Homo sapiens: one gene and its partners. The protein of the gene in region 2 purifies or fractionates together with the protein of the main gene of each other region. This does not show direct contact. Each region holds a gene or a part of one and is shown on either strand. Other genes may lie near its edges. The genes, in order: ATRN, BTNL8, CNTNAP3 and TMEM106B.

Region 1 (8,653 bases), on a different chromosome or scaffold from region 2:
ACCAGTGTCAGGACTGCCTGTTCCCTGCAACAAGTAGCTCTTATCCAATCCTCTGGGCTTTCCATGTGGACTCTCAGAGAGAGCTCCCTGGCAATCTCCCTCATAGGTCGATGACTCCAAACTTAACATCTGCCAGGTGTGTACTCTGAGAGCACCCCAAACTCAGCATGCATGCAATTAAATGTCTAACACCTGCTCCTGTGTCCCTGTGTCTGTTAATGGTATCACTGTCCTCTCAACCACCCAAGACAGGATCTAGTTTTCTTTCCCTCACCATCCCCCACCTTTCCAAGAGCAAACCAGTTTACACGGAAGACTTGTCCATTTCACCTCTACAAGCTCTCATTACCACTGCTCTGACCCATGCCAACAGATCCCACCTAGCTGCCCCCTATCTCTCATGCCCAAAGTGAGTGTACCTACTCTGAACATTACAGATTGATCTTGCTATGAAGTCCCCTTCCCACACCGCTGGTCCCCACTGCCTACCACAGTGTCCCAGGTTTTCAGAACTTGAAGGATCCTCGTCTGACTCAACCATCCATTCACCTGACCTTGGAAGCTTCTCAAATGGAAAATGCCCTGGCCTCACCTTCAAGGCCATTTGTATTCTGGCTCCAATCTAAAAGCCTATAATGTCATGAAAATAGGCGTGAACTACGCCATTTCACAGCTCTTGGGCTAAAGGTCAAAATTCTCAATCCAACCCACAGATCTCCACTTGGCCTGGCTTCCCGCCTTTCTCTCCAGTCTTGCCAAGCTCCCCTTTGCTCTCTCTGCTCCTGCCACCTGGCCTTCCATCCGCTTCAACCCCAAGCCTCTGTACCTGCTGGCCCCTCAGCACCCCACCCCTCACGCAGGTAGTACCATCTCACCCCTCAGACTTCACATCGCTTCCTCAGTGACTTACCTTACCCCTAGACTAAGTCAAGTCCTCTGTTTGTCTCCTGCTCTTTACCTCCACAGCCTTAAACAAAATTACAATAAAATTTTTGTTGGATTTTTTTACTCCCAAGCTGAAATGTGAGCTCCGTAAGAGCAGGACTGTGCCTGTCTTGTATACCACTGTATCTCACAACCTAAAACATAGGAGCCCTCAACAAATACATGTAGGTTAATGGAATTCATAAATCAGAACACCCTAAGTTACAAAAGCAGCTTCACTGCATCAGTGGTCCTGAAGTAACTTGGTTTCTCCATCCATAAAACTAAAGAGCTCATCTGCTCAACGTTCTCTGAGTTCCTCAGAAGACCTAATATTACCTAAGTCTACAATTTTGCTATTCCAAACTCCTCTCTCACAACTCTCTTCCACATAGGCAGCAGCAAAACTTTACTTTCCAGCCTCCACAACTTTGTTTGCACCCTTCTTTCCATCTGTAATTTTTTTCCAGCTCCACATTTCCAAATCCTACTTAACCTTACATGCTCAAATCCAATGTTACCGCCTCCTCAAAGTCCTCCTTGCATCCCTCCAGCTAGCCACAACCTCTCCATCCCTGAATTCCCACAAGTTCCCTGTTGCCTCATTCAGGTCTCAGATCAAATGTCATTTCAAATGAGAACCCTCTCCAAGAGTCACCACCGGTTATAATTCTCTATCAGACCACGCTGTTTTTATTTTCTTGATAGCATTTACCATTACCTGAAATTACCATGTTTATTTCTCTCATTTATTTACTTGTTAAGTGCCTGTTGCTCCCACTAGAATGTTAAGGTCAATGAGAGCAGAGGCCCTGTCTGTCTTGTTCACATTTCCCCACTCCCCCACATCAGACATGTGTTCAGTAAGCTAAATACCTGTCAAAGGCGTGAATGACTCTGTAACCCTTATGACTAGGGTTATGTGCGCACATTATCTTTCTCTTGCTATATTCCAAACTCCCTGTGGACAAGGCCAAAGTCTGGCTAATCTGTCTGTATTATCTGGAAAATCATTGCACAACTGAAGCAAATAACGATAACTGCTAATTAATTTATTGATTTCTCCAAGAGGAACTGCCCCAAACTAAGCCAATTCAGAACTTCATATTGTCCAGAAACCAAGGCAAATAGGAATCTCCTTCCATTCCCTCTTCACCACAGACCCTATTCCAATTTGCCACCTCCAGGGAGCTTTTGCCAAAAGGCTAGTTTCCTCACTTTCCTTTAGAAGGACCACTGGTCCTTCTATCCCTAATATCTTACAATGCTACCCTTTCCCTTTTATCTCCAGCCAACAAAGCATTTCCAGGGCCCTGTTTCTTCAGAGCACCCCACATCTCCAGTGCATCGGGGAACTCATCGGGTCCTAGGGCACATGTGGATGTTAAAAGGAAGTGTTCAAGCAAACCTGGCTCGACCACCTTTCCTTGGATACCTCGTTTAGCTGAAACACGCCGAGTTTTAGAGCGATCGGCTTTGATGCTCTTTGGGTCCCTCAGCATTCTTCCCATCTAACTAACCTAAGCACCCAAATACCGTCGGGGTGCCCCCACCCTTGCCCCACACCTTTTCACCTTCCAACAGAGAAAGACCCCAGGCCAGAGACGATGATCTCCCCGGAAGCAAATGGCCCTCAAACCCCATAGGGCGGCCCTACCCTCTCCACTTTCTGTCCAGCATCTCCCTCTGACCTGGAGCCGTCTCGAACGCCCCTCAGCCCCAGCCTCTGGTTGGACCCGACCCTCCGACACCACCCGCCACTCACCTGAAGCGGCCCCCGCAGTGCTGGCATTGCTCGCCCACCCAGCCGGCGGGGCAGACGCACTGGCCGGTGCCAGGGTTGCAGCGACCGCCGTTGACACAGGGCCGGTCACATTCCTTGGCCTCGGCTGCGGCTGAGCCCGACACCGCCGCCGCCGCCGCCGCGGCCTCGGCCTCACAGGGCAGCAGCAGCAGCAGCAGCGGCGGCGAGAGCAACAACAGCAGCAGCAGCAGCCGTGGCCGCAGCGGTGGAGACAGCAGCCGCGGGAGGCGCAGCCCGGCCCCCAGCCCCGGCCTCCCAGCCCTGGTCACGTCCCAGTCCCAGTGCGGCCCGCCGCTCCTGCCCGCGAGCGCTGCCGTCGCCGCCGTCCTCCTCCTCAGCCTTGCCTCAGTTGCCGCCGCTGCAGCCACCATCTTCCCGGGGCTGAGACGGCGCCCCGCGAACACATACACACACACCGCACGGCCGGCTCCGCTTCGCCTGGCCGTGCGGGGCGGGGCTGTGCGGACGGTGGCTCGTGCGGTCCAAAGGGGCCACAGCGGGGCGGTGGGCGGGGCCGGCGCGCGCGTGCGCGAGTACGTGGGTGCGTGCGTGCGGGGGCGCAGACAGTGGTCTCCGGCGTCCGCGGCGCCGGAGGCGATCTTCTGACGTGGACCGTAGAACGAGCTGAAACCCGGCTGCGCTGTCCCGGCCGGCGAAAGCTCTAGTTTTCCCCCTTCGCCTTTCGTCCCCGGCGGCGGGGTTGCAGCCCCACTGGATGCCTAGGAGCCGACTGCGTTGAGTGTTGCCCTCCTAGAGACCCGGCACTCTGCCCTAACTCCAGCTGCCGGACGGAAAGGGTACAGGAGGCTGCATCGCAGCGAGGTGCTGGGTGCGGTACTGTAGAAGCCAGGCTTCATTCGAGCCTCTGTAACACAAGAGTCAAGAAAGAACACATGTAGAACCTGGCATAGGCCGGGCGCGGAGGCTTACGCCTGTAATCCCAGCACTTTGGGAAACTGAGGCAGGCGGATCACTTGATCTCTGGGATCCGAGACCAGCCTGGCCAACAGGGTGAGACACTGTCTCTACTAAAAATACAAAAATTAGCCGAGCATGGTGGTGCGCGCCTGTATCCCCAGCTACTCCAGAGGCTGAGGCAGGAGGATCGCTTGAGTCTGGAGAGGTCAAGGCTGCAGTGAGCCGCAGTCGCAGCACTGCACTCCAGCCTGGGCAACACAAGACCCTGTGTCAAAAAATGAAGAACCTGGCATGTAGGCTGTGCTCAGTAAATGCCTAATAAACTGAATGAAGACACACAGCCAGGCCTCTTGATAACAGATGGACTGTAGCTGACCAGACCCCCTACCTTTAATTCTGTAAAAGTTTGGAGTTACCTTGCTCCCCACAATTTGCCCTCCAACCATCTTCTCTGAAGAGTGGGCAATATAGAATTAGGAAATGGCGCTCACACAGACCTGCCCCTTCTTGTCTGGTAGTTGTTACTCTGGTGTCCCTCAATGAGACATGTCTTCCATCAATGTAGCCTTTTATGGTCCTTGACCCTGGAATCTGGGCTGGGTCATGATTGAGACCATGAGAAACCATGACTCAATTTCACCAATAGAAGAAGTTGGTAGGAGTAGCAATGTCTTGTTTCTAGCTCTGAGCTTAAAAAAGACCTGGCAGCCTTGGCCGGGCACGGTGGCTCACGTCTGTAATCCCAGCACCTTGGGAGGCCGAGGCGGGCAGATCACGAGGTCAGAAGTTCGAGACCACCCTGATCGACGTGGTGAAACCCTGTCTCTACAAAAAATACAAAAATTAGCCGGGCGTGGTGGCACACACCTGTAATCCCAGCTACTCAGGAGAGTCGCTTGAATCCAGGAGGCAGAGGTTGCAGAGAGTCGTGATCGCGCCACTGCACTCCAGCCTGGGGGACAGAGCGAGACTCTGTCTCAAAAAAAAAAAAAGACCTGGCAGCCTTGATTTTGAGCTGTTGGTGGTCATGAGCTGCACCCCGTTAGCCACCTTGCTGGAGAGAAACCATGTGCAGAGACCACTTGGACTTGGAGAGGGAGAGCTGGGCCGCTCAGCTGGTGGAGCCATCCTAGCTAAGGGATCAGTCATTGAGTGAAGAAGCTATCTGGGTTGGGTTATTCCAACCGTCTGGGCTGTTCCATGTTACCTACAACAGTAACAGGTCTTTCCTAACTGTGACTTATCCAAAATCCTAAGAAATAACTCATTTATCATTTAACCCTTAAGTGATGAATTATTTATAATTTTTCATAAATTATGATTTATGTTATTTTAAGCCTCTAAGTTTTAGAGAGGTTTGTTACTCAGTAATAGATAAGCAGAACATTGTCCGACATAATGCTTGTGCTATGAGGAATATTCCTATGGCACCTACCTCAGAATCTGGGCACCTTACAGTCCCTGGGAAACAAAGAAAAACCCTCATAGACCTGTGGAGCCTCTCAGCTTTACCTCAGAGTATGGAATTTTAAGGTTCTAAGATGGATTTCCACACTCATACCCAGGTCCCACTCTCATACTCAGGTCCTGACTGTCCTCACTGCATCTTCTTCAAGCCTGGTGAAGCTGAATTGCACAAAAGCCTTACCCCCAGCTCTACATCCACACATACTCCCCATTCCTACAGGAAAACTATTGTTCGGCCTAGGCCCTAGCACTGACATTCTGGTTTGCAGGTTATGTTTTTGCCATGTAGGATTTTGAAATTGAAGACATGGCCCTACCCTCTGGCAGGACCCCATCAGATGGGGAGGCTGGCATAGGCCATGCCCTAGCTGTAGGAGACATTGCTCCCCCTAATCTTCCAGGCCAGAAGTGAACCAGCCCTTTCCTTCCCTTCCCTCCCCACAGCAAGACTGAACCCACACTGTGAAGTTTCACATGATTTTACCAACATTCAGGGATAACAGAAAAGGTGTGCATCTGAAGAACAGCAATCCCTAGACTAGATATTGCTACTCTGAAGCCTTAGAATCTTGCTGCAGCAAACATTCTTTCTTACTTCCTTAATCTACTCTCTTCTCTGGTTCTTTTTCCTTAGCTTTCAAACATGCTCAAATTATTTTGTCCTTAAAAAACAAACACGCTGGGTGCAGTGGCTCATGCCTGTAATCCCAGTGCTTTGGGAGGCCAAGGTGGGAGGATCACCTGAGGCCAGGAGTTTGAGACCAGCCTGGACAACATAGTGAGACCTTGTCTCTACAAAAAATTTTTTAAAAAATTAGTCAGATGTGGTGGCGTGCATGTGTAGTCCCAGCTACTTGGGAGGCTGGGGCAGGGGGATCACAGAGCCCAGGAGTTTGAGGCTGCAGTAAGCTATGTTTGGACCACTGCACTCCAGCCTGGGCAACAGATCAAGACCCTGTCTCTAAAAACAAATAAACAAAGAAACAAAATCTTACCTGCTATCTTCTTTTTCCTTTACTGCGTTTATCAAAAAGTCCCCTACACATTCTATGTCTGTGTGATAGATTAAAGATGGCTGCAAATTCTCTTACATTCCTTCTATGGAGAGATCAGGTCTAACCCTTGGCCCCGGCCCCACCCCCACCCCCACCCCCACCCCACTCTGAATCTAGCCTGGCCTTAGTGATTTGCTTGACTGATAGACTATGGTGGAAGTGATGTACTGGGATTTCTGAGGTCCCAGAAATGGGACTTTATGCTAGGTCATAAGAAGTCTTGCAGCTTCCTCCTGAAGTGTCTTGGAACACTTGCCATAAAAGATGTCCAGCTACCCTGAGACCACCATGCTGTGAGGAAGCCAGCCCCCAGCCATTCAAGTCTTCCCAGTTGGGGCCCCAATCATGAAGCAGGGGGGTGTTGTTCCTGCTGAACCCGCCCCAAACTGCAGATACATAAGCAAATAAATGAGCCAACTGGGGACAGTTCGTTACACAATAATAAATTACCAGAATACTCTGTACCCTGGTTCCTCCAAGGACAAGAATAAGTCTTGTGATGTGGACTTGATTAAGAATTAAGAACGACAGTATAATTGTATATAAATGTATAATCTACAACTAGTCATCTATATGTAATACACTAGTATCATTGTCCAGTTGCTTCTCATGAAGGAGGTCACCGTAGTCACCGTAGCTTCAGAAGTGCCTCTGTTGTACCCCAGTGCCTTATCAGCAAGATTCTGCAGCAGTTCTGCCTGAAATCCCTTTTTTTCCACTGGTCTTTGTCATGGTGGTCATTTCCAGGTCCCAGAAACTGTAATGCCAGTGGCAAAGAATACCCAGGCTTTGATACAAATTACTCTAAGTCCAGACACTAAAATAACATTGTTCTTGCCAACTGCATGACCAAAAGGGTTTGTCTCCACTAGGTTAGTGCAGGATGGTTTGAAGGTGCCTATGCCTATTCTTTTTCACTTAAGTAAGGCATCTTACTCACCTTGGCCCTTTCTCTGATTTCATGTCATCTCTTCCTGTTTCTTTGCTTGCATTGTCTCCAAGTCATGGACATAGATGGATTTTATAATTTTTGGCTTTTACTCATGCAGTGTCTTTGGTCAGATTCCCTAGAAGCAGAACCCTGAAACAGGATCTGAGTGCATAATTCATTGGAAGATTGCTCTCGGAAGAAACACAGTGAAGGAAGCAAGATAGAGCCCAGGAGGGGGTTGAGAAAAGATGTGGTCTGGTCTTATCTAGAGTTGAGCTTCAGCCTGATCCTATGGAGAGCCCTAGAGCATGAATTGTACCATAGAATTGATTCCACTTTGAGGTAAGGGAGCAGCATTTTGTACACACATCTCTTTCAGCAGACAACATTCACAGCAGTAAGAAGGATCCTATAAAGGAAATTTGGGAGGGGTACCAATAGATACAAATAGATAGCTCCATGTATGTGTAATACATATAACAAATGTTTGTTTATCAAATACCTACTAGAAAGCAAAGATTGAATACTGCTCAAGTAAGATCTGATTGACCATCTGACTTTCCCGCAAACATCACCGGTCCTCATTCTGCACTGTTTGAAACATCGATACATTTTATTGTCCCAAAGTTATCCTTATACTTTTAGTCAATGTGTGACCAAGCAATTCTCTAATTATAGGTGTTAAAATCTCACCTAGAAGGTAAGGTACTACGTTGCCTGTGAAAGAGGTTGATCCTGAAGGTTTGGAACAAACACAACTGAGAGGGTTCTAGGTAGGAATAAAGTGCCATTGAAAGCTCCAATGGATATCCCACTGTCAACCAACCAGCAATAAGATTCCAATAGTCCTTGGCAGACTGTAAGAGAAAGTGTTTAGGAGTCCCTGATCTGGGAGCATAAAGTTATACCTCTGAGCTGTTGGCAGAGCTCCTGGTGGCCTCCTCAGACAAGTCCCACAAGTACAGGAGTTCACCTTTATGTCAGCTCAAGGGACAAGACGCTGCACTGGGATGAGCACATCAATTTAAAGGCAGAAGACTTGAAATTTCTATTGGATGAGCTAGATTCATGCCCCCTCCCCCAAATTTCTACAACAGAGAACAAAAATTTTCTCTTGTGTATAGATAAGATACTATGAAAACAGTACTACTGTTAAAAGACAAATGACTTTGCTAAATATGGCCATGAAGTACTTCAAATTAGAAGTTCCCAAACTGAAGCCATCCTTTTGGATTAAAATCCCTTATAATTTCTCCTAATTACAGATGACATATTAGTTTCCTGTGACTGCTATAATAAATTTCCACAAACTTGGTGGCATAAAACCACAGAAATTTAAAAGTTGACAGTGCAGAAGTCCTACTAGTCTGGTTCTTGTTCCCACCTGGGTACCAGCTTCCTTCAGCAGTGTTGGCCAAGGTGCTGGGGGCCAACGAAGGGAAGAGTCAACTTGTGAGAATTTTGCAGGTCTGTTGTTCTTAGCACAATGCAAGGCTAGACAAAGAGGAGAAAGAAACTTACCTGATCAGTGCCAGAAGTTATTGCACTCAAAGG
Region 2 (7,965 bases):
CAGGAATCTTTATTTGTTAATTTAAAAATAAATGTTCATAAGGAAAACTATTTTGACAGTGGGGAAAAAAAAGAAATAAAGTATCGATACAAGCAATAATTTGGATAGATCGCAAGAGCATTATGCTGAATTTAAAAAGTCAATCTCAAAAGGTCACCTGCGGTGTGAAGCTGTGTATGTAACATTCTTGAAATTACAGCATCAGGGAGATGGAAAACCCCAGGCAGGGGCTGAGAAGGGGTGGGTGTGACCATGAAGGGGTGACAGAGGGAGATCTTCGTGATGATGGGGTAGTTCTATACCTTGATGTGATGGTGGTTACCTGAATTTAAACATGTGACAAAACACATAGAACTATACACACAAGACAGAAGGAACGTAGAGTATAGAATGCTGCCTTCTAACTAAATGACCTAAAATTTTAAAATTTCCTTATTGAAAAAAACACTTATAAAGTCCAGGATGGTTCTTTGGGACAACTAAGTTATGAAATATGAAACTGACCTGACACCTGTAGCTCCCAGATGGCCTTCTGGTAGTAAGACTGGGAACTAATCCTGCACCCATAGAGGCCAGCATCCAACACAGTAATGTTTTCCAGCCTCAGAGAGATGCGCCCCTCCGCAATAGAATCCTTCACCAGTTTTGTCCTGCCTTGATACTGTGGCATCTGCATAAATGGCTGGTCCTTCCCGTCCCTGTAGAGGTGGACCACGCTAGAGAACTGGCCCCTGAAGAACCGCACTTCCATGGCCTCTGCATTGGTCTTAGGAGACAGGAAACAGGAGAATGCTGCGTCCTCCCCCACCAAGGCCTGGACAGGCTTGTCTGGCCCAAACACCTGCCACTGCCCTGTGGGAAGACATACAAAAGATAAATCATCAAAACCCTTTGTAGTGAGGGGGAGGAGCCAAGATGGCCGAATAGGAACAGCTCCGGTCTACAGCTCCCAGAGTGAGCGACGCAGAACATGGGTGATTTCTGCATTTCCATCTGAGGTACCGGGTTCATCTCACTAGGGAGTGCCAGACAGTGGGCGCAGGTCAGTGGGTGCGCGCACCGTGCACGAGCCGAAGCAGGGCGAGGCATTGCCTCACTCGGGAAGCGCAAGGGGTCAGGGAGTTCCCTTTCCGAGTCAAAGAAAGGGGTGACGGACGCACCTGGAAAATCGGGTCACTCCCACCCGAATATTGCGCTTTTCCGATGGGCTTAAGAAACGGCGCACCACGAGATTATATCCCACACCTGGCTCAGAGGGTCCTATGACCACAGAGTCTCGCTGATTGCTAGCACAGCAGTCTGAGATCAAACTGCAAGGCAGCAGCGAGGCTGGGGGAGGGGCGCCCGCCATTGCCCAGGCTTGATTAGGTAAACAAAGCAGCTCCAACTGGGTGGAGCCCACCACAGCTCAAGGAGGCCTGCCTGCCTCTGTAGGCTCCACCTCTGGGGGCAGGGCACAGACACACAAAAAGACAGCAGTAACCTCTGCAGACTTAAATGTCCCTGTCTGACAGCTTTGAAGAGAGCAGTGGTTCTCCCAGCACGCAGCTGGAGATCTGAGAACTGGCAGACTGCCTCCTCAAGTGAGTCCCTGACCCCTGACCCCCGAGCAGCCTAACTGGGAGGCACCCCCCAGCAGGGGCACACTGACACCTCACACGGCAGGGTACTCCAACAGACCTGCAGCTGAGGGTCCTCTCTGTTAGAAGGAAAACAAACAGAAAGGACATCCACACCAAAAACCCATCTGTACATCACCATCATCAAAGACCAAAAGTAGACAAAACCACAAAGATGGGGAAAAAACAGAACAGAAAAACTGGAAACTCTAAAAAGCAGAGCGCCTCTCCTCCTCCAAAGGAACGCAGTTCCTCACCAGCAACGGAACAAAGCTGGATGGAGAATGACTTTGACGAGCTGAGAGAAGAAGGCTTCAGATGATCAAATTACTCTGAGCTACGGGAGGACATTCAAACCAAAGGCAAAGAAGTTGAAAACTTTGAAAAAAAATTAGAAGAATGTATAACTAGAATAACCAATACAGAGAAGTGCTTAAAGGAGCTGATGGAGCTGAAAACCAAGGCTCAAGAACTACGTGAAGAATGCAGAAGCCTCAGGAGCCGATGCGATCAACTGGAAGAAAGGGTATCAGCGATGGAAGATGAAATGAATGAAATGAAGCAAGAAGGGAAGTCTAGAAAAAAAAGAATAAAAAGAAATGAGCAAAGCCTCCAAGAAATATGGGACTATGTGAAAAGACCAAATCTACGTCTGATTGGTGTACCTGAAAGTGATGGGGAGAATGGAACCAAGTTGGAAAACACTCTGCAGTATATTATCCAGGAGAACTTCCCCAATCTAGCAAGGCAGGACAACGTTCAGATTCAGGAAATACAGAGAACGCCACAAAGATACTCCTCGAGAAGAGCAACTCCAAGACACATAATTGTCAGATTCACCAAAGTTGAAATGAAGGAAAAAATGTTAAGGGCAGCCAGAGAGAAAGGTCGGGTTACCCTCAAAGGGAAGCCCATCAGACTAACAGCGGATCTCTCGGCAGAAACCCTACAAGCCAGAAGAGAGTGGGGGCCAATATTCAACATTCTTAAAGAAAAGAATTTTCAACCCAGAACTTCATATCCAGCCAAACTAAGCTTCATAAGTGAAGGAGAAATAAAATACTTTACAGACAAGCAAATGCTGAGAGATTTTGTCACCACCAGGCCTGCCTTACAAGAGCTCCTGAAGGAAGCACTAAACATGGAAAGGAACAACCGGTACCAGCCACTGCAAAATCATGCCAAAATGTAAAGACCATCGAGAGTAGGAAGAAACTGCATCAACTAACGAGCAAAATAACCAGCTAACATCATAATGACAGGATCAAATTCACACATAACAATATTAACGTTAAATGTAAATGGACTAAATGCTCCAATTAAAAGACACAGACTGGCAAATTGGATAAAGAGTCAAGACCCATCAGTGTGCTGTATTCAGGAAACCCATCTCACGTGCAGAGGCACACATAGGCTCAAAATAAAAGGATGGAGGAAGATCTACCAAGCCAATGGAAAACAAAAAAAGGCAGGGGTTGCAATCCTAGTCTCTGATAAAACAGACTTTAAACCAACAAAGATCAAAAGAGACAAAGAAGGCCATTACATAATGGTAAAGGGATCAATTCAACAAGAAGAGCTAACTCTCCTAAATATATATGCACCCAATACAGGAGCACCAAGATTCGTAAAGCAAGTCCTGAGTGACCTACAAAGAGACTTAGACTCCCACACATTAATAATGGGAGACTTTAACACCCCACTGTCAACATTAGATAGATCAACGAGACAGAAAGTCAAAAAGGATACCCAGGAATTGAACTCAGCTCTGCACCAAGCGGACCTAATAGACATCTACAGAACTCTCCACCGCAAATCAACAGAATATACATTTTTTTCAGCACCACACCACACCTGTTACAAAATTGACCACATACTGGAAGTAAAGCTCTCCTCAGCAAATGTAAAAGAACAGAAATTATAACAAACTATCTCTCAGACCACAGTGCAATCAAACTAGAACTCAGGATTAAGAATCTCAAAGCCGCTCAACTACATGGAAACTGAACAACCTGCTCCTGAATGACTACTGGGTACATAACGAAATGAAGGCAGAAATAAAGATGTTCTTTGAAACCAACGAGAACAAAGACACAACATACCAGAATCTCTGGGACACATTCAAAGCAGTGTGTAGAGGGAAATTTATAGCACTAAATGCCCACAAGAGAAAGCAGGAAAGATCCAAAATTGACACCCTAACATCACAATTAAAAGAACTAGAAAAGCAAGAGCAAACACATTCAAAAGCTAGCAGAAGGCAAGAAATAACTAAAATCAGAGCAGAACTGAAGGAAATAGAGACACAAAAAACCCTTCAAAAAATTAATGAATCCAGGAGCTGGTTTTTTGAAAGGATCAACAAAATTGATAGACCGCTAGCAAGACTAATAAAGAAAAAAAGAGAGAAGAATCAAATAGATGCAATAAAAAATGATAAAGGGGATATCACCACCGATCCCACAGAAATACAAACTACCATCAGGGAATACTACAAACACCTCTATGCAAATAAACTAGAAAATCTAGAAGAAATGGATAAATTCCTCGACACATACACTCTCCCAAGACTAAACCAGGAAGAAGTTGAATCTCTGAATCGACCAATAACAGGAGCTGAAATTGTGGCAATAATCAATAGCTTACCAACCAAAAAGAGTCCAGGACCAGATGGATTCACAGCCGAATTCTACCAGAGGTACAAGGAGGAACTGGTACCATTCCTTCTGAAACCATTCCATTCAATAGAAAAAGAGGGAATCCTCCCTAACTCATTTTATGAGGCTAGCATCATTCTGATACCAAAGCCAGGCAGAGACACAACAAAAAAAGAGAATTTTAGACCAATATCCTTGATGAACATTGATGCAAAAATCCTCAATAAAATACTGGCAAACTGAATCCAGCAGCACATCAAAAAGCTTATCCACCATGGTCAAGTGGGCTTCATCCCTGGGATGCAAGGCTGGTTCAATATACGCAAATCAATAAATGTAATCCAGCATATAAACGGAGCCAAAGACAAAAACCACATGATTATCTCAATAGATGCAGAAAAAGCCTTTGACAAAATTCAACAACCCTTCATGCTAAAAACTCTCAATAAATTAGGTATTGATGGGACGTATTTCAAAATAATAAGAGCTATCTATGACAAACCCACAGCCAATATCATACTGAATGGGCAAAAACTGGAAGCATTCCCTTTGAAAACTGGCACAAGACAGGGATGCCCTCTCTCACCACTCCTATTCAACATAGTGCTGGAAGTTCTGGCCAGGGCAATTAGGCAGGAGAAGGAAATAAAGGGTATTCAATTAGGAAAAGAGGAAGTCAAATTGTCCCTGTTTGCAGACGACATGATTGTATATCTAGAAAACCCCACTGTCTCAGCCCAAAATCTCCTTAAGCTGATAAGCAACTTCAGCAAAGTCTCAGGATACAAAATCAATGTACAAAAATCACAAGCGTTCTTATACACCAACAACAGACAAACAGAGAGCCAAATCATGAGTGAACTCCCATTCACAATTGCTTCAAAGAGAATAAAATACCTAGGAATACAACTTACAAGGGATGTGAAGGACCTCTTCAAGGAGAACTACAAACCACTGCTCAAGGAAATAAAAGAGGATACAAACAAATGGAAGAACATTCCATGCTCATGGGTAGGAAGAATCAATATCGTGAAAATGGCCATACCGCCCAAGGTAATTTACAGATTCAATGCCATCCCCATCAAGCTACCAATGACTTTCTTCACAGAATTGGAAAAAACTACTTTAAAGTTCATATGGAACCAAAAAAGAGCCTGCATCACCAAGTCAATCCTAAGCCAAAAGAACAAAGCTGGAGGCATCACACTACCTGACTTCAAACTATACTACAAGGCTACAGTAACCAAAACAGCATGGTACTGGTACCAAAACAGAGATATAGATCAATGGAACAGAACAGAGCCCTCAGAAATAACGCTGCATATCTACAACTATCTGATCTTTGACAAACCTGACAAAAACAAGCAATGGGGAAAGGATTCCCTATTTAATAAATGGTGCTGGGAAAACTGGCTAGCCATATGTAGAAAGCTGAAACTGGATCCCTTCCTTACACCTTATACAAAAATCAATTCAAGATGGATTAAAGACTTAAACGTTAGACCTAAAACCATAAAAACCCTAGAAGAAAACCTAGGCATTACCATTCAGGACATAGGCATGGGCAAGGACTTCATGTCTAAAACACCAAAAGCAATGGCAACAGAAGACAAAATTGACAAATGGGATCTAATTAAACTAAAGAGCTTCTGCACAGCAAAAGAAACTACCATCAGAGTGAACAGGCAACCTACAAAATGGGAGAAAATTTTCGCAACCTACTCATCTGACAAAGGGCTAATATCCAGAATCTACAATGAACTCAAACAAATTTACAAGAAAAAAACAAACAACCCCATCAAAAAGTGGGCAAAGGACATGAACAGACACTTCTCAAAAGAAGACATTTATGCAGCCAAAAAACACATGAAAAAATGTTCATCATCACTGGCCATCAGAGAAATGCAAATCAAAACCACAATGAGATACCATCTCACACCAGTTAGAATGGCAATCATCAAAAAGTCAGGAAACAACAGGTGCTGGAGAGGATTGGAGAAATAGGAACACTTTTACACTGTTGGTGGGACTGTAAACTAGTTCAACCATTGTGGAAGTCAGTGTGGCGATTCCTCAGGGAACTAGAACTGGAAATACCATTTGACCCAGCCATCCCATTACTGGGTATATACCCAAAGGACTATAAATCATGCTGCTATAAAGACACATGCACACGTATGTTTATTGCGGCACTATTCACAATAGCAAAGACTTGGAACCAACCCAAATGTCCAACAATGATAGACTAGATTAAGAAAATGTGACACATATACACCATGGAATACTATGCAGCCATAAAAAATGATGAGTTCATGTCCTTTGTAGGGACATGGATGAAATTAGAAATCATCATTCTCAGTAAACTATCGCAAGAACAAAAAACCAAACACCGCATATTCTCACTCATAGGTGGGAATTGAACAATGAGATCACATGGACACAGGAAGGGGAATATCACACTCTGGGGACGTTGTGGGGTAGGGGGAGGGGGGAGGGATAGCATCGGGAGATATACCTAATGCTAGATGACGAGTTAGTGGGTGCAGCGCACCAGCATGGCACATGTATACATATGTAACTAACCTGCACAATGTGCACATGTACCCTAAAACTTAAAGTATAAAAGCAAAAACAAAAAAAAAAACCCTTTATAGTGTGACCTACTCAGGGCTCCATTGGGCTGGGCTGGAGATGTGCATCAGGGGGAAACATTCATCACAATCCTATTTCTAAAGCCAGTGACTTGCATTTGTGTATCTCCTTACATTTGACAAACCATGTCCACATCAGTTACTTCATTCGATCTTGAGGAGCACCTGCAGAAATGTGTATTATTAATGTTTTTATTTTTAAGATGAGAAAACCATGTTATCCAGAGGAAAAAGTCTCTTTCTGAATGTAGACCCTTTGATTCCAGGAGGTTCTATTGCCACATTCTCTCCCATCTGCCCATTTGCTTCAATTAAAAAAAAAACCCAAACATCCCCATTTCCATCGTCCTTGCTGAAAACCAAAGTTGACGTCTTTCTAATGGCCCAGAGAAGAGTATGGGCCATAAAGTCTCCAGTTTGCGGCAATTCGTTAAGGTTTCCTTCAAGCACAATATTATATCAATATTTTATGGCTACTATAGAGGAATGTTACATTTCTGCCCATGGCGCACACAATTATTTGTACTTCCTTAGTTTTTTTTGAAAATCTGCTTGTTCTGCCAAGTTCTGAAAGACATGCTGTGACACTGAAACAAGATTTTGCAGTCTGTTTTCTGTAAATTTGTTCTTTAGCACGTTCACGTGTGACTTATATTTTCCATAGCATGTGCCTTTTACGCTTGTGTAGTAATTTTTTCCACTTTATTTTAGCACTGAAAGGTGGTTCGCCTAGTGCTTTGTCAACATGTCTTGCCTTCATTTTTTTTAAAAAAAATTCTTGGTACATGTATGTCCTCACCTCGCTTTTGAAACTTTCTTCATTGTCTTGCTTCAAGTGTGACAATTACATGTTTTCTGTGAGCCTCCCCTGCACAGCTCTTGGCTCTCTGGGGACAGGGCCTGATTTTCTTGCTCAGCATAGTACCCACTTGATCAGCACAGAGCCAGTCACACAGAACAGGCTCCACAGTTATGCATGTGAACGGTGAGCCCCATTTCCTTTCTTACTTGCTCATCTGTTTAACAATCATTTGAGTA
Region 3 (7,965 bases), on a different chromosome or scaffold from region 2:
ATCTGAGAAAAAAAAAGATCAAGTAAATATTTATAGACTTTGTCTATAAACTCTCTTATTTACCATTTCTAGTTCTCTTTCTTTGTTCCTCTGACTCATGTTACCATTTGGTGTCATTCCTTATTTCAGTACAGCCTTGCTCCCATCTGTCTCCTCTGTGCTGTTTTTTTGTAATATATTTCTATAGGCCCAACAATGAAAATATATACATTATATATTTGTATATTCTCTATTATAGTTTTATACATTGCTTTTTAAAATAGTTAAGCACTGAAAAGGGTAAGAAATATGACATTATACTTTCTTTTATAATTACCTGCACACTTACCTTTATTAGTGCTATTTGTTTTTTGTGTGTAGATTCAGATTATTGTCTGGGTTATATCCCTTCAACCTGAAGGAACGTTCTTTGTTATTTCCTCTAATGCAGGCTAATAGCAGTGAATTCTCTGTTTTTTGTAAGTAGGGATATATTTACTATCTTTTTTAATTTTTAGTTTTTATGAATACCTAATAGTTGTACGTTATTTATGGGGTAGAGGTAATATTTTGATACAACCAAACAATGTGTAATGATCAAATCAGGGTAACTGAGATATCCATCACCTTAAACATTTATCATTTCTTTTTGTTAGGAACATTCCAGTTCCACTCTTCTAGTTATTTTGAAATATACAATAAATTATTGTTAACTATAGTCATCCTGTGCTACTGAACATGAAAGACGGTTTTGCTGGGTGTAAGTTTCTTCATGACAATAGTTTTCTTTCATCTCTTTGAATATGTTATCTCACTGTCCTGTGGCCTCCATTCTTTCAGATTAGAAGGTAGCTGTTGATCCTGGCGTTTCCTTGTATATATGATTTTTCTCTTACTGCTTTTAAAATTTCCTTCTTGACTTTGGCTTTCAAAGTTTTTAATAAGATGTGTCTGGATATAAACTTCTTTGTGTCATCTGTATTTCACTGAGTTTCTGTATCTTAGATTAATGATTTTTATTAATTTGGGGGTGTTTTCAACCATTATTTTTCAAATATTTTTTTCTGATCCTTTCTCTCTCTCCTGGTATTTTCAATTACGTATATATTGGTGTGCTTAGTTATGTCTGATATTTCTCTGATGATCTATTTTTTTCATTATTATTTCTCTGTATTCTTCAGGATACATAATCTCTATTGATCTTGCTTCAAGTTTGCTGACTCTTTTTTCTTTTCTCTGTTAAACTTCCCTGGCTTAACTCATTACTCTCTTGGAGTTATCAAAATTCTCTTAATTGCTTACTGCCAATATCTTCATACCACTATGCTTAAACTTATCCATCCTCTGTTCCAAATAGAAATCAGTTCACTTGGGGAGGGCTACCAAGCTGTGTATTTTCATGGCCTCCCTCTACCTCTTGGTTGAATGTGCCTCACTGCTCTGAAGCTGTGGGGAGTGAGAGTGGCCTGCTCCTTTGTAGTAAAACCTCTGCTTACAAGTAGGGCACAGGGTGGGAAAGGTAACTTCTTGCCTTGCCTCTCCTGGTGGAGAAACTGTTCCTTACAAGTAAGCTGGAGTGAGGGCAATTGGGACACAGGATTTTCCAGCTGCCACACCTGAAGACCTTATGTCCTGGAATGAGGAGTTGGTGTAGGAAGGAAACCCCAGACTTCTCAGCTGTTTCTGCGTGGACAGAGCTTCTGTCCTACAAAACTGGGGATGACAAGAAATGCTGGCACCCAATCTTGGGGTAATGCAGTATCTCTGGAGTAGGACCTGGGTAGAGAGGAAACCTCTGGCTTCTTGGCTATATCCATATAGAGTGGAGCTTCCGTCATACTGAGCTAGGGATGGGGAGGTGCTGGGAGAGGGTCTTGGCTTAAATGCCTCAAACTCTCACTATTATTACTGATTAATAAATGTTTCTTCATTTGATGTATTTCCTTAGGACATCTTCTAAAGACTTTCAATAGTTGTTTTTTAAAATAATAATTTTTACTAGTTATGCTTGTTTCGTATGAGAGAGGGTTTACAGAGCTCCTTATGTGGCCAGCCTGGAAATGCCAGAGTACCAGGTTTTTTATTTGAATGTTACCTCCTCTTTAAAAATCGATTTGCTTTGTAGGAAGCATGAAACAGAGCTCCTGAAGTAACTAGAGAAAAGGTGATTTGAAGACCAACCCTCCTTCAAGGTCAGAATTTAGAAATGTTCTTTTATGCCAAAGATGTTTCTCAAATTTACTGTCTGGATAGAAAGGCTAATCCAAAGTGGTATCTACAGTATTCTGAGAGAGAAAAGTTGAAGGGCTTTCAGATTCTCTTAAAACACTTTATGAAAGGTTGATATTTTAATTTTATATCAAGTTAATTCCAAAAATGTGTTTAGTACACACATACACATACACACACCCCCCAAATATATCTGTAAATAAAAAGACAATGTTGGGTGATGATCATTGTCTTGGAATACTACTCCACTCTTTCCATTTCCATAAAATATAAAGAATTTACTGAAAATCCAGATCATTCTTATTAGATTAGGTAATCTAACTATAACATATGCCCCAGCCACTGGAGGACCATTTTCCATTTACTTACTATATAATGTCTATCCTTAAGAAAATTTTGGGTTATAAAATAACATTCAAATTGCACTTAGCAAATGTGGATTGGGAATGATTTAGAAATCAGCACTTGTGCTCATGAAGGAGTGGTTACTCCTGATGTTGGCTTGAGATATAAAAAGGGCTCTGTATTTGCACCAGAGCTATGAGATTTGTTAGCACAGAGATCTTCAGGAATGATAAAAGACACATGCAAGACCTTTTGAAAATTTAAATGACTTCTAGATAATGAATCCTCAAAATTTTTTTGAAAGTCACACAATTTTATAGTGATTAAAGCCTGTTTTGCTGCTAAAAATAGTAAGTGTAACAGCCCAGAGACACTTAAAAACACAACTACATTTTAGCTCTGATGATTCAATATTGTAAGAGGTTTCATAAAAGTATTATAAATATATTAAATAAGTCAGTACAGAGTACTTAATACTAAAATCAGTCCCTTTTTCCTTTTCTTTTTTTTTTTTTTCCCCAAGACGGAGTCTCACTCTGCCGCCCAGGAGTGAGTGCAGTGGTGCGATCTCTACTCACTGCAACCTCTGCCTCCCGGGTTCAAGCAATTCTCCTGCCTCAGCCTCCCGAGTAGCTGGGATGCCCGGCTAATTTTTGTATTTTTAGTAAAGATGAGGTTTCACCATGTTGGCCAGGCTGGTCTTGAATTCCTGACCTCGTGATCCGCCTGCCTTGGCCTCCCAAAGTGCTGGGATTACAGGCATGAGCCACCACGCCCAGCCCTTTTCTTTTGAAAACATGATTGTACCTGAGCAGAAGCTGTGTGATACCCCACTGCACTCCTCTAAGAAGAGTCAAACATCATAGAGCACAGTGTTTGAGTGATCCTGTTAATGACTGTCAATATTTAAATATTATTTTCCCCTTCTAGTTAGTATGCTTGTTTTATAAGAAAAGACATTTCTATAAAGGCCTTTTGAATCACTTCAAGTCATTGTCACAAGGGACAATGGGTAAGACGATTGCTCAAGCCTAGGAGTTCAAGTCCAGCCTGGGCAACAGAGAGGCTTGAATAGCAATACGTTGTCTCTAAAAATTAAAAACAAAAATAACAATGATGGTTTACTGATGTTAAAATTAGAACAGTACAAGGACAGAGTTTTGAAAACCAAATTATTTCAAGAGGATTAGCATTGAACAGATGCTAGGGGTAACCCAGAGATCTTCTAAATAAGAAACCCAGAGAGGACTGATAGCCTTAAGTTTTCAAAAACAGTCATATCCCTTCTAAATTCAATAGAGGAATTTGGTACAGAAATTATTCCATTTCAAATAATTCAATCTTATCCTCTCTTTATAATATCAAATGCCAGAAGCATTCTTCATGTTATTTAAGTTTCATGTACTTTCCCTATAACCTGCTCCTTGGTCACACTTACCATTGGAGCAGAACGGCCCATCATAGGCTGAGAAGGCACAGTCACAGGTGACCCCCCTGCGTTTCTCTCTGCATCTCCCTCCATTGCGACACAAGTGTCCATAGGTGCTGCAGTGTCCTGCACACCCTGGCTCCACTCCTGGCGTCACTGTGGCTCTTTCTTCCAGATCCAGGGCCACCCCGTTCAACTGCAGAGACCGAATGCATCCTAGAAAGCCTCTCTGTCTGGTGGCCGTTCCACCTACAACGGAAACACTGCAAATAGAAATGTGTTCCTTGGTATTTTATTCAGGATTTTATGTCCATGTCAAACTCAGGCCTTATGGAGAGTGGCAATAATCACAATGTGTCAAAAAATTTTGTGAACATACACAATTTTGAAAATGTAACTGTTATGAGACATGAAGCTTTAAATGACATTGAATAAAACACTTATTTACATAACTTTCAAACATGGTGAGTCTGGCAAATAGTCCTAAAACATTTCCTTAACTTCAGGTAAGAAAGAATTTCACTTTAGTTCCTTCACAAAGAACAAAATACATAATATAAACCACATCAAACACTATTCTACTTTGTTTAGGAATAAGAATGTGTATTCATCAAACATTATTTTAATTTCTTTATGAATAAGAATGTGCATTATAATGGTTAGGTATGAACTTCCAAATTTTTCACAATAATAAAAATATATATGGATAATTTCTTACTTGGATGGACTCTAAAAATAAAGTGTGAAAGGAAATGGAGAGGCAAAGGAGGGGAAGTTGGAAGGGGTGACACCGTACCCCAGGATCTCCTCCTCTCAGAGGGTACAGTGCTAAACAGTAATTGAATACTGCATGCATGCACATTTTGTCATGTCAAACTTGAATGCTGAAGAAACCATTTAGAGAGGTTTACAACACCTGTGTAGTGACAAACACCATTATGAAGGCGACAATTCTCAATGTTAGGAGCATGGAAATTACCTAGAGTTTCTGGAAAATGCAGTTTTTAGCCTCCTCCCAGAGATTCCAATTCGGTGGGCCTAAGGTGGGGGCCCCAAATCTGAACTATCAATCAGCTTTGTGGGTGATTCTGAAGCCAGTGATTCATCCACCGCAATGAATGCTGATTCTAGGTGAATTTTACGCTAATTGTGTTTCTAGGCATTCCCTTAAATAATCTCCAAGATTACAAGTGAGAAAATCAAGTTCTTGGTTTGACCCCTCCGTGTAGTCCTCCTTTCCAGTAGTTTGATGGTTTCATGTCCTTTGAAAAAGCCTCACTGCACCTTAATAGAAGAGCTAACCACGCCTGAAGCTAGGTTTTAGGAAGTCATGGTATAACACCCCATCCACATCCACATACATACGTGGGTTCACGTGTAGCATTTAGTACCTGGAAGTTGTATCTACCCTTCCCTGTAAATTAGGTTGGATGATAATTTGTGATTTAGTCCAGTTTTAATTAGATTGCATCCTTATTCACTTTAAAACACTTAAGAAATGAACAAGTGAGAGCTTTAATCTGTGTAGCTCCTAAGTTAGAATAGTTTCAAAAGCAATATGGAAAAATAAACAACAGTGATAAAACAGTAAGTAAGCAAACTAAAGGAAAGACTTCCAGAGCTATCACCTTTAAATAAATGGAGTGCAAGAACAGATGAGCCAGACCAGGTTATAAACAAGGAGCCTGTGATGAGAGAGCCCCAGAAGTGAGAACAGCAGCGAGGAAAACCGGGAGTGGGCTCCTGGAAGCCTGGCCGCGGGGGAGGTGCGCAGTGCTGCTTCCAATCAGCGGGTATCCTGCGATCTGGTTTTGAGTGGACCCTGGAGGACTTCTGTCCCAATTACAAGCTCTCTAACTCCACCGAGAAGTGAAACTGAAGGAATGGATAAAAATGTCTAATGATCTCACTAATAGTGTTGATAAAATATAGCTGTCACATATGCCAATCCTCTGCAATGTGAATGGTTCAAGTTTGGGGGTCGGCTATCCTGGGATCCCTCTCATTAGCTGGTTACTCCACTTCTCTGAGGCTTGGCTATCTCATCTGTAAACAGATGACAATACCTAAACATTGATACCTAAACACTGAGATACTGCAGGGCCCGGTGGCTCGCGCCTGTAATCCCAGCACTTTGAGAGGCTGAGGTGGGTGGATCATCAGGTCAAGAGATCACGACCATCCTGGCCAACATGGTAAAACCGTGTCTCTATGAAAAATACAAAAATTAGCCAGGCGTGGTGGCACCTGCGCCTGTAATCCCAGCTACTCAGGAGGCTGAGGCAGGAGAATCGCTTGAACCCGGCAGGTGGAGGTTTCAGTGGGCTGAGATTGCACCACTGCACTCCAGCCTGGGCGACACAGTGAGACTCTGTCTGAAAACAAAAACAAAAACAAAAACAAACAAACAAAAAAAGAAATGTCAAATAAGAAGCACACAGCAAGCTCCTGGAACCTACCAGGTTATCAGCAAATAGTACCAATAAGCAGTAGTTGTTGTTGGCAACTGTTGCTCTCAGTACATCACAGTTCTTATTTTCTTTTGGTCCCTCTCTGGACTCACACTAAATTCAGTTATAAACCACCAGCACTCACCAATGAAGAGCTGGCTGTTGAGCTGTAAACGAACGTGCCCATCAGCAGGGGCAGGCTGCATCTTCTGAGGAAGCTGATCAACTTGAAGAGACGCTCCTTTAACATTTCTCTCTGCCCTCACGTGGTGCCACTGATTGTCATTAAAGGGAGTGGGTGACTGCACCGTGACCTCACAAGGTCCATTCCCCACATCGAAGGAAAAGGTCACTTCTGTGGGAGCTAGAAATATTAGATATGAATATTGCTCAAGCAAATTCACAGAAAATTGAGTCTTGTGCAGACACAGGAAAACATGAAGGCACGCTCAGGATGGAAGGAGATAATGACGGCGATGCAGAAAAACGGGACTGTGAGTTGGGGTGGGGGCAGAATAAATCTGTATCCTGGAGGAAAACAGAACGGATTTTAACATATTTATCCTCAGAGTTCACAATTCAACCTTGTTAAGTCCTAAATAGTAGAGATATGTACCCATAGCTGGACTACCCATAGCTATGTACCTATAGCTAGAATACCAAATAGTATTTGTTTTTGAGGTTTCAGTAATTTTATTTACAAACGGCTCAAAGTCTCATCTAATTCTATAAACACTGAATGTAAATTTTGACAGTCATAAATTAAGCTTTGGGTACATAAAAAACAATATGTCTGGTCAAATATTTTTGGAATTCAGTAAACAATGTGATGAGTTTGGTTTAAAGCTCTGGCTCTGCTGTTCTGTACTCTAGGGAAGGCATGACATTTTAATGGATTATTACGTGCTTCATGCTTCATTGTTTTATTTTCTCTTAAAAATGATTACTGGCTGGGTGTGGCAGTTCACACCTGTAATCCCAGCACTTTGGGAACCCGAGGCAGGCAGATCACTTGAGGCCAGGAGTTGAAGACCAGCCTGGTCAACATGGGAAAACCCCACCTCTACCAAAAATACAAAAATTAGCTGGGCACGGTGGTGCCTGCCTATAGTCCCAGCTACTCAGGAGACTGAGGCAGGAGAATTGCTTGAACCCAGGAGGCTGAGGTTGCAGTGAGCCAAGATAATGCCACTGCACTCCAGCATGAGTGACACAGCAAAATCCTCTCTCCCTCTCTCAAAAAAAAAAAAATTACCTAAAATCATAGAAGTTTAGTATTTTATAATGAAATAGAATCACAAAATAAGAATGAAATACTAACATTTTGTTGAGTTAAAGCTTTTATTGCTAAATAATGGGTACCCTGTGACTTGTCCAGAGTGGCGAGCTTACCACGCAGCTCAATCCTGATGAAATCTGTGATCCCCAGGTTCTCCATAAACACCCCGGAGGAAACTGTGGTCTTAAAAAAGAAGCACACGTCAGCAGTGAGTTCTCCGTGGAAAGCAGGGAAATGAAGGTATGAAGTCTCAG
Region 4 (7,965 bases), on a different chromosome or scaffold from region 2:
ACGCTTTTCTAAACTGCTCTCAGACCTTATCCAGAGGACATGGTAAAGATATGTTACAGAAATTTTTCTGATACTTCCTGGAATAACTTTAAGTTACACCCTAGTAGACTGGTCATTCTAATAAAATCCAGTACTATAACAAACCTCTGTATGTTGATAGCACATTGGCCCTTTTTAGAGTTCTTTCCTATGTTTTTCTTACGTGATTTCCCACAGTTCCATGAGTCCAACAAAGGAGAGTGATAGGCTCCTTATCTTTTAGAAGAGGAAGGAAAGGCATGAAGAAGTTGAGGGACTGGCTGAAGATCACGTACTTACTAAGTAGTACAACTGGAGCAAGATCAAGTATCTCTGTCTCCCATATCTGTGTTCTATCATTTAAAATATATATTGGAAATCCCTGCTGACTCAGATTGGTATGATTAAAAATGAGAGGAAAGTTCAAATAGTTAGTAGTGACAAACTAATACTGCTGGACTAAGATTTTGGTAGCATTGTTTTCTAAAATATTTTAAATGGAGAATGAACACTTATAAAATGCTTTGGAACATAATCTTTAGCTTAATTTTCTGTTAAAATTTAGTACCCCTTCATCATTCCAATAAAGATAAGACTGATCCATTGTCTAAGGAAATTATTTATAAATAATAGAGATTAATTTATTTGAGATTTGAAATAAGAATAGTATGAAAATATTAGATACCACATAAATTGTTTGAAATTACTGAATAACCATCTTAAGTATGGAACATTTAAATGGCTATATTTTATTTGTGTACAGTTTTTCTGTGCCTTGTTAGGCCAGTGAAGCAATTATTTTCTCTAAGAAAATGACAATAAAATATAACACACTTCAGATTGTCTGATTTACAGTTTGGAAAGGACACCGCAATGTTCAAATAGGTAGGAGACCATCAAAAACACAATTAAAGTAACATATTAGGAGACTTGAAACTTCAGCCTAATAAATCCTTCATGGTTCTTAGCCTTATTATTGTGATATAATTCTAGATATTTTCTTGGAGGGCATGTGCCCAACTCTCCCGCACCCCATTTTGTTTGTCTTTTAAAGTTCTTAGAATAAACAGTTCTTTATATAATAATTATATTTTATTTAAGAAAATAGTTTGTTAGGTACTTTTTAAAAGATGTAAATTTTTAAATTTACAAATACATATGGGTCTTTGATAAGCAATAGGAATTGAATTACAAGTTACTAGGGTTATAAGCAAAAGGTTGCTTACCATAATGTCATTAGGTCACGATTTTTAGCTCACATCTGGAAGCAGCAACTACTTGGCTCAAGTACATATAAGAGTAATTAGTTTTATTCTCTCTTTTTTATAAAATCGGGTTTCAGATGAGATGTTTATCTTAGACTATTTTAGGGAAAAATTTTACATGTTTGAGATGGTGGAGTAAAAAGACTGTTAAACATTTCTTTTAAAAAATTATTTTTACATTACAACAATATATTTATGATGTGTTCAGATCAAAAATTTAACTTCTGTGTCCCAGATCTACTTTCAAAGTGAGATTTTCACTTGTCAGCTTAAATTTCTGACTAGAACTAACATTTGTGTATTTTTGTGCTTAGTCGGAATACAAATTTCACAGTGGATTTTTGAAGTTTGTCCTTAAATTGGATAAAATCAAGTGATTAAAGTTACTAAAGAGATAAAAATGGTAATTTCCATTTTTAAAAGTAATTTGGTTGTGTTTATAGTTATTTGTACAAGTATTTATCACAGACTCTAAATTGAAAAATGTAGTATGATCTATATTTGACCCTAAAAATGTTGGATTAATTTAACAAATATGGCAGATTTTTCATAACTAAGTCTTAAGTCTTCTAAAAGGAAGCTGTTACCCTTCTGTTTTTAATTACATTAATTGAAATGTGTTTTAAGAGATACAATTTCAGCATATTTTATATATTAAAAAACAAAAAAGGATTAGTATTGAGCCAGTGGCCAAAAGGTAATATTACTACCATGTAGACTGTTATAGTTCAAATTGTCCCACTTCACCCAGAATTTTAGAAACTAGAAGTCTGGGAGGTACTATATCAGCTGTAGTTGGGTAATTCCAAGTGCTGATAGTACTATTCATCTTTTTTATTATTGTGTCAGATGAAACAAATGCCAAGTTGCAAAATATGCAGATTTTTATTATATAATGGTTTTAGGCATAAATTATTAACAAGCCATGCCTTATGTGTTTCATCTTATATTTTTCTTTAGAACTAAACTATAACAGATTTTGGAAAATGATTTGACGTGCTTGCTCACTTGATTGACTTGGTCAGATATTTGAATGATGGTATTACCTAGATTCTAATCCTTGATTCTAGTTATATAATAAATAATATAGAATATGAAAATATGTTTGGGCATTTACTGTTTATATTATGTAGTAGCCTCCATCATGACACACTTACTACATTTATGAATTGAGCAGTTCTGTAATTGTAATTATTATTGCTGTTCATGTAACAAAACATGCTTATAATAGCAAACAAATAGAAATGCCCCCAAAATGCTATTTTTTTAATTCAGTTATAACTGTTACTCTTGTAGTTGTGTATGACGCAATAAAATTTGTAAAAAAATTTCAGCATGAAAAATAAAATTTGTATCACTTATGTATTTTGGCTATGCTTTTGAAATTTCCTTAACATAAACAAATCAGTGTAGATATTCAAAATCTTTTACCTTTAATCCTTTTCATCCTTATAGTCCTTACCTGAACTCTACTTTAGCATTATCTTTGATTTCTTTTTTTCATTCACTTAACTTCCAATCAGTACTCAAGCTTTATCCATTCTACCTCTGTAATGTCTCTGGAATTTATCTCATACGTGAAATTTCCCTTGATATTATAGACATACCTTGGATATATTGCAGGTTTGGTTCCACACCATATCGATAAAGTGATATAATCAAGCAAGTTACACACCTTTTTTTGGTTTCCCAGTGCATATGAAAGTTATGTTTACATCATACTGTAGTCTATTAAGTGTGCAATAGCATTATGTCGAAAAACACAATATATATGCCTTAATAAAAAATAGGCTGTGTGCAGTGGCTCACACCTGTAATCCCAGCACTTTCGGAGGCCAAGGTGGGAGGATCACCTGAGCCCAGAAGTTCAAGACCAAATTGGTCAACATGGCGAGACCCCATATAAAATATATACATACACACACACACACACACACACACACACACACACACACACTATTGCTAAAAAATGTTAACGATCATCTGAATGTTCAGAAGTTTATACTCCTTTTGCCGGCACAGGATCTTGTCTGGATGTTGTTTGCTGATAGATCCATGTAGTGGTTACTAAAGTTGGGGTGGCTATGGCAATTTCTTAAGACAACAATGAAGTTTATCACATCTATTGCCTTGTCCTTTCATGAAAGATGTCTCTAGCATGTGATGCTGTTTTGATAGCATTTTACCAATGGTAGGTCTTTTTTCAAAATTGGAGCCAGTCCTCTCAAACCCTGCCTCTGCTTTATCGACCATGTTTAAATAATTTTCTAAATTCTTTATTGTCATTTCAGCAGTGGTCTCAGCATCTTCACCAGGAGTAGATTCCAACTCAAGAAACCACTTTCTTAGCTCATTCATAAGAAACAATTCCTCATCTGTTCAAGTTTTGGCATCAAGTTGTAGCAATTCAGTCACATCTACAGACTCCATTGCTAAATTTTAGTTCTCTTGCTATTTCCACATCTGCTGTGACTTCCTTCACTGAAGTCATGAACCCCTCAAAATTATCCATGAGAGTTGAAATCAATTTCTTTCAAACTCCTGTTAATGTTCATATTTAGACCTCTTCCCCTGAATCACAAATGTTGTTAATGGCATCTAGAATGGCAAATCCTTTCTGGAAGGTTTCAATTTACTTTGCCCAGATCCATCAGAGGAATCACTACCTATGACAGCTATGGTCTTACAAAATGTATTTCTTATATAGTAAGATTCAAAAGTCAAATTTACTCCCTGATCCATGGCTGCAGAATGCACGTTGTGTTAAGAGGCATGAAAACAACATTAATCTATTTGTACATCATCAGAGCTGTTGGGTGACCAGGTACATTGTCAATGAGTAGTAATACTTTGAAAGGAATTTTTTTTTCCAAGCAGGTCTCAACAATGGGCTTAAAATATTCAGTGAACCGTGTTGTAAACAGATGTCATATTATCCAGACTGTTCCATTTATTGAACACAGGCAGAGTAGGTAAAAGTTTTAAGGGTCCTAGGATTTTCAGGATGGCAAATGAGCATTGGCTTCAACTTAAAGTCACCAGCTACATTCACCACTAAAGAGAGTCAGCCTGTCCTTTAAAGCTTTAAAGGCAAGCATTGACTTCTCTTTAGCTATGAAAGTTTTAGATGGCACCTTTTTGTAAAAGAAGGTTGTTTTATCTACATTGAAAATATATTGTTCATTGTAACCACTTTCATCAATGATCTTAGCTAGATATTCTGGGTAACTTACTGCAGGTTCTCCATCAGCACTTACTGCTTCACCTTGCACTTTTATATTATGGAAACAACTTATCTCCTTAAACATCATTAACCAACCTCTTGGTAGCTTCCAACTTTTCTTCAATAGCTTCCTCATCTCTCTCAGCCTTCATAGAATTGAAGCGTGTTAGGGCTTTGTTCAGGATTAGGCTTTCACTTAAGGCAATGTTGTGGCTGGTTTGATCTATTGAAACCACTAAAACATTCCCATATCGGCAATAAGGCTGTTTGATTTTCTTATCATTCATGTTTTCTGGAACACTTTTCAATTACTTACAGTAAGGAAATAGCACTTTTAATTTCCTTCAAGAACTTTTCCTTTGCCTTCACAACTTGTGCAAGAGACCTAGCTTTCAGCCTATCTTGACTTTCCAAGATTGTCCTTGGTGAGAAATGCTTGATTACTAGGTGTAATTATTTCTAGCTTTTGATTGAAAGTGAGAGATATGTGACTCTTCCTTTTACTTGAACAGTTAGAGGCTATTGTAGGATTATTAATTGGCCTAATTTCAATGTTATTTTGTCTCAAGGAGAGAGGGATGTGGGAACAGCTGGTTAGGAGAGCAGTCCGAACACACACTTTTTTTTATTACTTTCACTGCCTTACATGGGTATGGTTCATGCTGCCTCCAAATACTTACAAAAACATCAAAGATCACTGATTACAGATCATTAAAATAGGTTTAATAATAATGGAAACATTTGAAATATTGCAAAAATTACCAAAATGCGACAGAGACATGAAATGAGAACATGCTGTTGAAAAAAATGGCACTCATAGACTTGTTGGACACAGGATTGAAAGAAACCAATTCATCAAAACCACAATATCTGCAAAACGCAATAAGGTGATGCACAATAAAAGGAAGTATATCTGCACTTCCTTCTTTTTTACTGAAAAAGCCCAAGTTCTTACTCTGGTGTTGAGAACCTTTCATTAGCTGGCTACAATCTCAGTTCACAATCATTTCTTATTGCCCTTCAACAATGTCCTGACCAAATCGAGTTCTTTCTCATTGGGAACAGTTCATTCCTTTATCCCTTCGCTCATTCTGTTCCTTTTTTCTTAGAAAAATTATTTGCCCATGTTTTTTATCCCCCAATTCTATCTTTTTCAATGCCCACTTCGTGTCCAACCCCTCTCTACTTTCCCTCTAAACTTACTCAAACACTTGGTGAACTTTTTCTGAATGTTTTTTCTGAATGTTTACTTTTAAAGGAGTTGCCCAGTCACAAAGTTTGAGCCAAGTTTTTTTGTTTTAAACTTGTTTTAAACTTTTGTTTTCATCAACTTTTTTCAAACAATTTTTGTCAGCTTAGAGGTTGTGTTTTAATTACTATTTTTAAAATCTTGTATGAGGTAGTATGATTTGAAATTAGATGGAATGTGCCCAAAATTATCTCTGTAGAATAATATGGAAAAACGAAAATGAAAAGATGTATTACCTGAATGTGCTCCTCCTAGCCAGTTTCTCAAGGGAGAAGAATCATTAATAAGTTTGTGAGGCTTTTTTTTTTTTTCTGGTAGATTTCTGTTTCCTTGATCAGTGGTTTTTCAGAATTTTTTAAAGCTTGTGAAATACTTATTTGTAAATAGCATCTTATGAGGAACCTTGATATGTGACAAAACAGATGCTTTGATTTGAGAGCAGAAGACCTGCAGCCCCTGACTGCTCACCTTTCCAGGGACCCCTGAACATTGGCCTAGAGGGTAGTGTACAGTCACTTCTTCAGTGATAACTTACTGAGTGTGATTCAACAAAACTGCTTTGGTTTATGGGTGAAACATAATTTATAACTAGGCAAATGTCAGCTTAAATTTATATTTTCTAAATAGCACTGAAAATGACAATAGACAAATGTAATTTCTGATTTTTAAGAAATGATTTTCCATTTTAACATACATTTTAAATGTTTTGTCTTCAAAGGGAATCCTTAAAAATGATATATTGGAAACCACTGATTTCTTATTTTCATTTCATGAATTTCAGATTCATGAATGGAATATATTGATAATAGCATTTTTTAAGTTGCCCCAAAAAGATGAAATACAAATAATTTTAATCCCAAATCTATTTCAGACACCTAACTTTTTTTTTATTTTTTATACTTTAAGTTCTAGGATACATGTGCAGAACGTGCAGGTTTGTTACATAGGTATACACGTGCCATGTTGGTTTGCTGCACCCATCAACCCGTCATCTACATTAGATATTTCTACTAATGCTATCCCTCCCCTAGCCCCCTACCCCACAAAAGGCCCCAGTGTGTGATGTTCCCCTCCCTGTGTCCATCTGTTCTCATTGTTCAACTCCCACTTATGAGTGGCAACATGTGCTGTTTGGTTTTCTGTTCCTGTGTGTGTTTGCTGAGAATGATGGTTTCCAGCTTCATCCATATCCCTGAAAAGGACATGAACTCATCCTTTTTTATGGCTGCATAGTATTCCATGGTGTATATATGCCACATTTTCTTTATCCAGTCTATCATTGATGGACATTTGGGTTGGTTCCAAGTCTTTACTATTGTGAACAGTGCTGCAATAAACATATGTGTGTATGTGTCTTTACAGTAAAATGATTTATAATCTTTTGGGTATACACCCAGTAATGGGATTGCTGGGTCAAATGGTATTTCTGGTTCTAGATCCTTGAGGAATCACCACACTGTCTTCCACAATGGTTGCAATTTACACTCCCACCAACAGTGTGTAAAAGCTTCCTATTTCTCTACATTCTCTCCAGCATCTGTTGTTTCCTGACTTAATGATTGCCATTCTAACTGGCGTGAGATGGTTTCTCACTGTGGTTTTGATTTGCATTTCTGTAATGACCCGTGATGATGAGCTTTTTTTCATGTTTGTTGGCTGCATAAATGTCTTCTTTTGAGAAGTGTAAGGTACTTAATTCTTAAATTAAAAAAAAATACCCGGCCGGGCACGGTGGCTCACGCCTGTAATCCCAGCACTTTGGGAGGCCGAGGCGGGTGGATCATGAGGTCAAGAGATCGAGACCATCCTGGCTAACAAGGTGAAACCCCGTCTCTACTAAAAATACAAAAAATTAGCCGGGCGCGGTGGCGGGCGCCTGTAGTCCCAGCTACTCGGGAGGCTGAGGCAGGAGAATGGCGTGAACCCGGGAAGCGGGGCTTGCAGCGAGCCGAGATTGCGCCACTGCAGTCCGCAGTCCGGCCTGGGCGACAGAGCGAGACTCCGTCTCAAAAAAAAAAAAAAAAAAAAAAAAAAAATACCCTTCTTTAACAAAATCAAGTTTCAAGTTTTCTGCCTTGTTGATAACTTGTTAACATTTTTTTATTTTAGAATAAATCTAAACAGAGACCACACTGATATCTGTAACAACCTATGTAAAGTTAAGATTAAGGTTAAATCACATTTTTCACAGAGAGTGTTTTACTGAAATA

The links.
Region 1: the proteins of BTNL8 (region 2) and ATRN purify together in Homo sapiens (affinity purification with mass spectrometry; 3 studies listed by BioGRID and IntAct, with this or other methods). This does not show direct contact.
Region 3: the proteins of BTNL8 (region 2) and CNTNAP3 purify together in Homo sapiens (affinity purification with mass spectrometry; 3 studies listed by BioGRID and IntAct, with this or other methods). This does not show direct contact.
Region 4: the proteins of BTNL8 (region 2) and TMEM106B purify together in Homo sapiens (affinity purification with mass spectrometry; 3 studies listed by BioGRID and IntAct, with this or other methods). This does not show direct contact.

Annotation. Positions count from the first base shown.
Region 1 is NC_000020.11:3,465,554-3,474,206, reverse strand, and holds the start of ATRN (attractin isoform 1 preproprotein), read right to left. Parts: upstream 3,190-8,653; 5' UTR 3,135-3,189; coding exon of another isoform or gene 3,100-3,134; coding exon 2,690-3,099; intron 1-2,689. UniProt on the Homo sapiens protein: Involved in the initial immune cell clustering during inflammatory response and may regulate chemotactic activity of chemokines. May play a role in melanocortin signaling pathways that regulate energy homeostasis and hair color.
Region 2 is NC_000005.10:180,901,473-180,909,437, reverse strand, and holds part of BTNL8 (butyrophilin-like protein 8 isoform 2 precursor), read right to left. Parts: intron 7,093-7,965; exon of another isoform or gene 7,064-7,092; coding exon of another isoform or gene 7,042-7,063; intron 7,017-7,041; exon of another isoform or gene 6,941-7,016; intron 853-6,940; coding exon 505-852; intron 1-504.
Region 3 is NC_000009.12:39,095,920-39,103,884, forward strand, and holds part of CNTNAP3 (contactin-associated protein-like 3 isoform 1 precursor), read right to left. Parts: coding exon 7,825-7,965; intron 6,797-7,824; coding exon 6,578-6,796; intron 4,232-6,577; coding exon 3,992-4,231; intron 1-3,991.
Region 4 is NC_000007.14:12,234,617-12,242,581, forward strand, and holds part of TMEM106B (transmembrane protein 106B), read left to right. Parts: 3' UTR 1-7,965. UniProt on the Homo sapiens protein: In neurons, involved in the transport of late endosomes/lysosomes. May be involved in dendrite morphogenesis and maintenance by regulating lysosomal trafficking.